Linked DNA regions of Homo sapiens. The protein of the gene in region 2 interacts with the protein of the main gene of each other region in a pairwise test. Each region holds a gene or a part of one and is shown on either strand. Other genes may lie near its edges.

Region 1 (3,907 bases), on a different chromosome or scaffold from region 2:
TCCTTCCTCCCCTCAGCATAACAAACACCAAACACAAATCTCCCAGGCAGTCCCTTCCCCAGGAATTTACCCACAGTCTCACCTCTGTATCAACTTGCATCAAACTCCACCCACCAGATCCTTGTAACCTGTCCAGTCCCCTCATCTCCCACACCTCACAGTGGGCCCCACAGTTCCGCCCAGCACATGGGAACCTCCACTCAGACCTCCTTCCACTGACTCCTTTTCTTACCAACTCACCTCACCCCATTCCTCTCCAAGGTACCCAACTGAAACCCCATATAGGCCTTCCCCACCTGTTTCTCCCAGCCACACCCCTCCCATGGCCTCTGCTCCTTCTCCCAGGTTCTCAGACTTCTTTTTACACTCAGACCACTCAAACTGCCCAATGCCCCACCACTCCACTTTCAGCACTGTACAAGGTGCCACCCCTCCCCTTTACACGCAACCCCTGCTACCCACCAACTCTTCCTCAGGTGCCCAGATTCCTCACGTCAAACTATATCCCTTCCCCCCAGTCAAATTTTCTCACACTGGCCTAACCCATCTCCACACCCAGACTTTGCCCACCTTAACCACTTCATGATACGCAGCCCTGTTTAATTACTTAACCTCCTCTACAAATCAAGGCCCTCTCCTACAACCCTAACCCCCTATCCAGAATACCCAGACCCATTTTCACAAAAGCCTACTCCTCCCCGCTTCGGACCTAGGCCCTTCCACCACCCTAGCTCCTGTCTCCAGGGTATCTATCCACTCTTTACATTCATCACCTCTTCTTTGTACCAAGACCAAATCGACAATTCTAATCCCCTCTGAGATACCCAGATCCCCTCTTCCCATTGATTTAAACCCTTCCTGTTCATACACAGCCACTCATTCAGGGATGCCCATACCCTCATTTTATATCAACCTATGCCTCTCTTGCAAACAGAGCCCCCCCTCAAATCCATCTCAGGAATATCCAGATCCTCCTCCACATTATTAACCTAATCTTTTTTAATTTGCTAGAAGACCCAACCCACCCTAACCCATTCTAGGGATGCTCAGACCCTCCTCTTCGTAGCAACATAACTCCTCTTCTTTGTGTAAAGATCCACACACCCATCTTTCACAATGGCTTAAGCTCCTTTTACACACACCCCTCGTGCTGCCCAAACCCCCTTTAGGGATACCCGGACCTCCTATTCTCATACAGAACCTCCATCACCACCTTAATCCAGCACAGACCCCTCTTCCTCACACTCAAGCCCCTCTCACCAGCCTCCTATTCTGGGGGTACTCAGACCCCCCAGCGTCTTAGCAACCTCTCAGTCTCATTCCAGGAATTCCCAGGCACCCCTCACTTTAGCACACAGATCTCTCCCACCCTACTTCCTCCCCTTCCAATAACCAAATCCCATCTTCACCTTGGCCTAATTACCTGTACTTAAAAAAGACTACCTTCCCCAGCTCATTCTAGGGACACCCAGACACCCTTTTAAAATACACTTAATCCTTCTTTGTACAAAGACTCCTTTCCACGCATTCCAAGGGTACCCAACCTCCTGACACATTGGTTTAAGGCCTCTTCACATTAATTTAACCCCATCCATTACAACTGGACCCCTCCTTAGCTCTAAACCGTTCCCTTGGGGATATCGATTTCCTAATGTCTTCACACCAAAACCCCTCTCACCGCCCCAATTCTTTCCAGGAAGAACTAGATATTTTTCCCCTGCATTAACTTAATTATCTTTCTCACGCCCTAAGCCCCTAACTGGGCACCCACGTGCCGTCTAACCGGCCCAGCCCCTTCGTCCTGGACTTGCCACACCACCAAGTCCTTTACCCCAAACCCTGGGGAGCCGCGGAGCCCTCTTGGGACAGCTCTGAGGCCTCCCCTTCCCGCCCAGGTGCCCCACCAAAGCCTCAGCCCGAGCCCCGCCCCTCCTCACTCAGCCCCGCACGCGACTCCAGGCCCCTTCCCCACCCGCCGCTCCAGCCCGGCCCCCGCCCGGCTGCCCGCGCGCCGGGTCGGCCGTTGGTGCCGCTCCGCCCTAACTGCCCGGCGCGCACCCCCTCAGGCCCTCAGTGCGCAGGCGACCTGGCAAGAGGAGGCCGCGGCGGCAGGGAGCGCAGCCCGGCCGGCCTCTGCGCGCCCGCTCGCGCTCACCTGCTTCCGCCGTCTCGCACGCCCCGGGCCCGGGCCACGGCTCCCCTTGCACGGCCACCCTAACGCTGCGCCCGCTCTAGCTCTCGCCGTCGCCTCTCGCCTGCTCCGTAGCCTCGCTCTCGCCCCCAGCTACCCTCAGCAACGCCCCTCCCACCTTCCTCCTCGGCCGCCGCACGGACGGCCGGACGCAACCAATCATTGCCCGCTCGGGCCCTGCCGTTCGGCCAATCGACGTTCATGTCTCTGAGGCTTGGGCCAATAGTGAGGAGCGTCGAGATTCCCCGCAGCGCCCAACCAATCCTTTAGCGTCGTTCCCTCACCGGTCAGCCCTCGGGTGGATAGTGCCCGCCCCTTTAATCCTCCTTAGAGGATGCTCCTCCTCCTCCTCGACTCCGCCTCCGACGGCTCCAGAGGGGAACTCTGAGCGGAGGGCGGCGCGATGACGTTAGGCGGCGGAGCGCGGCCGCGGGCGCCATTTTGGGGACGCCGTGAGGGAGTCAGCGTTGGGGACAGGGAGAGGGAGGAAAAGAGCCTGGGAAATTGAGGCACGCGGCACCTTGAGGGCTGGAGCGGGGGAATGGAGGCACGGGAACCTTTGTGGTTTCCCCGAGGGTCAGAGGGAGAAAGTGAAACCACTTAGCGCGATGGGGAGAGGGCAAACTGCATGCAGCACCAGTCACATGGAGAGAGAAAAGGGAAACCAAGGTTCCAGACTCACTTTATTAAAAGGAGGGGAATGAAGGCAACAGGAAGAAACAGAGAAAAGACCGAGGGGACTTTTGGGAGGTGGAGAGAGGAGAAATGTCATAGGGGAAGCAAGGAGAGCGAGGATATGGAGAAAAAGAAGCAGGGACAATTTCATTGGAAGAAATAGGGAGTGTGGTGGGTAGAGGACCTGAAGGACAATCGGGGTGAGAGCCTGAAGGAAGTGAGCCGGTAACGGGCGGACTCCACTCCACCTCCTTCCGGGGTGACTCTGACCCTTACACCTCGAGATTGGGGCCCCATGTGTCCAAGGGGCTCTGGCCATTCCTACTCACCTCGTTCCTGCGCCCCTCAGGGCCTTGGGAGGGAGTTGCCCCAGTACTGTTAGAAACGTTTCCAGGCTGGGCGTGGTGGCTCACGCCTGCAATCCCAACATTTTGGGACGCTGAGGCGGGTTCACTTGAAGTCAGGCATTCGAGACCCACCTGGCCAACCTGGTGAAACTACCATCTTTACTAAAAATACAAAACATTAGCTGGGCGTGGTGGCTCGTGCCTGTAACCCCAGCAACTCGGGAGGCTGAGGCTCGAGATTTGATTGCACCCAGGAGGCCGAGGTTGCAGTGAGCCGAGATCACGCCACTGCACTCCCGCCTGGGCGACAGAGCGAGACTCCATCTGAAAGAAGAAAAGAAACATTTCCAGACCTACTCCTTGAACCCAAACACAGAGGAATTTCAACTTATCGGATGAGGAAACTGACTCTCAGAATTGTGTTATTTATTTACTTACCTGAAGCCACTATGGGATGCGTCTCACAGTGAGACCCGGGGCCAATTCTATGGCCATTTGGTCACTAGATGTCCTAACCTTCTCATGGATTAAATTCCCTAACACCAGGCATGTATAGTTAAAACAGATTCCCGGATTGGAATCCTGGTTCTAGGGCAAGTCAACTGTCCTGAGCCTAAGTTTCTAATCTGTGAAATGGGGCTAATAACAGCCCCATTTCATGTGAGCCCCATTTCATCTCATGTGAGGCAGAGAG
Region 2 (3,907 bases):
GAGATAGGTCGTTTTATCTCCATTTTGTATGAGATTCCAAGAAATTAAGTGACTTGCCCAAAGTCACACAAGGAATGAAGCCTAGATTCTAAGTCTACCTAGCTTCCCTCCTCTGGCCTTTTTTTTCTTTTTTTCTCTTTTTTTTTCTTTTTGAGACAGAGTCTCACTCTGTCCCCCAGGCTGGAGTGCAGTTGTGCGATCTCAGCTCACTGCAACCTCCGCCTCACGGGTTCAAGCGATTCTTCTGCCTCAGCCTCCTGAGTAGCTGTGATTATAGGCACGTGCTACCAGGCCTGGCTGATTTTTTTTTTTTTTTTTTTTTTTAGATGGAGTTTCACTCTTATTGCCCAGGCTGGAGTGCAGTGGCACGATCTCGGCTCACTGCAACCTCTGCCTCCAGGTTCAAGCGATTCTCCTGCCTCAGCCACCCGAGCAGCTGGGATTACAGACATGCGCCACTACGCTCAGCTAATGTTGTAGTTTTAGTAGAGATGGGGTTTCTCCATGTTGGTCAGGCTGGTCTTGAGCTCCTGACCTCAGGTGATCTGCCCGCCTTGGCCTTCCAAAGTGCCGGGATTACAGGTGTGAGCCATCGTGCCTGGCCAATTTTTGTATTTTTAGTAGAGACAGAGTTTCGCCATGTTGGCCAGGCTGGTCTCGAACACCTGACCTCAGGTGATCCACCCGCCTTGGCCTCCCAAAGTGTTAGGATTACAGGCGTGAACCACCGTGCCCAGCCACTTACTCCCTCTTGATCCTTACATTATAGTAAGCAACCTCAGCTGAGAGCTAAGAGTAGGACCTGGAAGCCAGACATGAGTCAGAGACTCAGGTACTCAAATTCTTCTCCCACCCTGGGAGACAGTCTCCTCCTGCAACAGAGGATGGCCCTAGCCTAACGGGAGAGTCTGGGATGCCTATGCACAGTGGGGAGGAATGGATGGGTGGATTTAGAGTGTTCAGTGATAGGGGGTCCAAGCAAGAAGAGCTTTTGGAAAAAGGGGCTCACCCTGTGGGAGAGTGGTCTTCCCACAGGCTGATCTTGGCTGTGATGGGCATAAACATTAGTAACACACAGAATTCTATTTGAATTTCAGTTCAACTATTTGTTATGTACTTTTAGGCAGGTTTTCTGTCTGTTTTCCCTTTCTAATGGAGGCAAAACCACCCCCCCTACATAGAGTTCAGTAAGTACCAGTAACATGCTGGTACATACATGGTAGGTACTGAATACACGCTCTTGCCGTTACCTCCCTTGCTAGGCTGTTTGACCAGCCCCAGCCCACTCACTGGAGCTTGTGGAATCGTTCAAATCCAGCGGCCACATACTGCCCTCTGTTCTTCAAGTCTGCCAGGTTGGTGACAGGGTGGCCATGACAAGGTGTGTAGAGGGCACGCACAGCCAGTGGGGCCTGCACAGCTGATGTCACCTCGCAGAGGAAGGCCTCCATGGTGGGGAAGCGGCGTTGAGTCACCACCAGCTGGGAGCCTGGGAAGAATGGGTCCCCATTCCGGTACACCACTACCCTCTTGGCTGCTGGACTGCCACCTGCCATAGTGTATCCTCAGTCAGAGAAACAGACCTGTTGCCAGGCAACCAAGGAAGGGCTGGGAACATTGCCAATCAGAGGTGGAGTCCTGCCCTCTCACCCAGGAAGGCAGAGGGAGACTGTGGCAGGAGCATTTATCTGCATTCAGGGTTTTATCCCATCTGCCCTGGGGAGATCACACTTAAACATAGGTGTTACCCTACTCTCCAGAGCCTCCTTGCCACTCTAAAGCACAAGGCTGAGCTCAATTGGGGATCAGCTTTGGGAGCTGTTCCCTAAGGAGGATGGCTAGATCTTTTCCTGGGCCATGGCTCCCAGCTGGCTCCGGGGTCAATGCCCCATGCCAGTAGGAAGTGAACGGCAGGGCCCAGAATCTGTCCTGGCCAGAAGCAGAAATGAAAGCAGCCAGACTCAGAATCTAAGAAAAACCTTTATTCCCAACAGACCTCTCATTCTACTTCCCCCAGGTAACTCCTTAGCCACACATTTGTTTTTTGAGACCGTGTCTCGCTCTGTAGCCCAGGCTGGAGTGCAGTGGCATCATCTTGGCCTACTGCAATCTCCATCTCCTGGGTTCAAGCGATTCTCCTGTCTCAGCCTCCCGAGTAACTGGGACTACAGGCATGCACCACCACGCCTGGCTAATTTTTATATTTTTAGTTGAGATGGGGTTTCATTTCACCATGTTGGTCAGGCTGGTCTCAAACTTCTGACCTCAGGTGATCCACTCACCTTGGCCTCCCAAAGTGCTGGGATTACAGGTGTGAGCCACTGCACCCGGCCCCTTATCCACAAATTTGGATTGAGCTACAGGCAGAGGATTGAAAATGTGTCCTTCCTCCTTCCCTATACTCATGCCAGCTCTCTGCTCCAGCTTCTCTTGGCCCCACTAGTCACCAATGGCCAGGGGCAGGAGCAGAAGCCAGAGCTGGTCAGGGAGGTAGGATGAGGTCTTGTCTCACTGCCCTTTCATAGCATTCCCCTTTGGAACCTGATCCTCTCCTGGCTTCCTAGGGTCTAGCCAGGTGGTTCTGTTTTCCATGGCCTGCCCCTCCACTGTTCCTCTCCTGTACAGCCTGCCTTTGTAGAAGACAGAATCTCAGGTGACTTTGATCTCCATGGTATAGTCCTCTGCTTTTTCTGTCCTTCATGACTAGGCTCATTGGAGGTTCCATCTCTGGAGCTTCTATCAGTGGGGGCCTGGCCTTTGGGTGGTTTAGTCCTCCAGAGATCGAGGACACTATGCTCTGGCCCCCCCAAGGTACCATCCCAGATGATGTGGTCCTCTGAGAGGCCCAACTCTTGTGTCCTGACTGTTCGGCAGTCAGGCTCTTTGTGGTCTAGTTTTCTGGGAGACATCTCCTTAATATTTGAGTCCTCATAGAGTGCAGACAGCTGTGTCCTGGACTTCCTGGGACAATGGTTCCTAGGTTTTAAACCTCTGGGGGTCTGGTCCTCCAGGATTTTCATCTGCAGCAGGCAGGTCCCTCCAAAGGTCTGTCTTCCATCGTCTGGCCCTTTGGTGAGCCTGTCCCCCAAGGCCTGGCTGTTTGATGGTATAGACGACGGTGGTCCAGACTTGCTGTAGCATGGTTCTCTGCACTTAGCCCCAGCAATGTTTTTTTGTGTAGTGGCCAAACTTCCTGGGGATCTGTGGGGTGATTTGACCCTGTGACAGGAGTCATCCTCCTGTTCTAGCTCTCCAGTGGTCCTGTCTCTGTAGGACTGGTCCTCCAGTGGTGCGCTTGGTTGTGACTGGTCCCTCTCACAGGCCTGTTCCCCATGTTCTAGGAACACGCGGGGTTCCTCTCTGATCGGGCCCGCCTCTGGGGATCTCAGTGTTTGTTTAAGAAGTAGGTACTGTTGGGGGAGAGAACATACATTGTACCAAGCAGGCCTGCTTGGGCATGGCAGGTCGTCTCTCCCTAACCCCCACCCTTGACCCTAAATGTTCAGAAAGAGTTCCAGGTTAGTGTTACCTCCTTACGGCTATTGATGGCCTGTTGCAGCCACAGCAATTCCATGGCCAAGTGGCTGCGGTGGTACTGAAGCTCTTGAAGCTGAGGTTGGCTGTGGGGCAGTCTTTGATCTGTGGCTTCTGTGAAGGAGGGAAGAAAGGAAGGAGAAAACCTTGAGGGACCAGACCCTGGGAAATGGCCTAGCCTTAGACTTTGGAAACTCCCTCCCCTGCACTGCCCAACCATGTGGTGGCCCTATCCCGGCAGAGGGAAGACGGGAAAGGGATGCAGCTTATCTAGCGCAAGCCTTTCACTCTTCAGATGGGAGGCTGAGGCACAGTGAGGGTCAGGGGCTTGCCCTGATCTTTGCAGAGAGGTACCTGGATTCTCCATCCTTGT

The links.
Region 1: the proteins of DCDC2B (region 2) and ZNF574 interact in binary tests that used the Homo sapiens proteins (3 or more experiments, as listed by UniProt).

Annotation. Positions count from the first base shown.
Region 1 is NC_000019.10:42,074,535-42,078,441, reverse strand, and holds the start of ZNF574 (zinc finger protein 574), read right to left. Parts: upstream 2,277-3,907; 5' UTR 2,156-2,276; intron 1,959-2,155; exon of another isoform or gene 1,938-1,958; intron 1,897-1,937; exon of another isoform or gene 1,832-1,896; intron 1,814-1,831; exon of another isoform or gene 83-1,813; intron 1-82. UniProt on the Homo sapiens protein: May be involved in transcriptional regulation.
Region 2 is NC_000001.11:32,206,743-32,210,649, reverse strand, and holds the start of DCDC2B (doublecortin domain-containing protein 2B), read right to left. Parts: upstream 1,562-3,907; 5' UTR 1,557-1,561; coding exon 1,291-1,556; intron 1-1,290. Other genes in the region: IQCC (IQ domain-containing protein C), read right to left, coding at 2,568-3,410, 3,530-3,648, 3,889-3,907.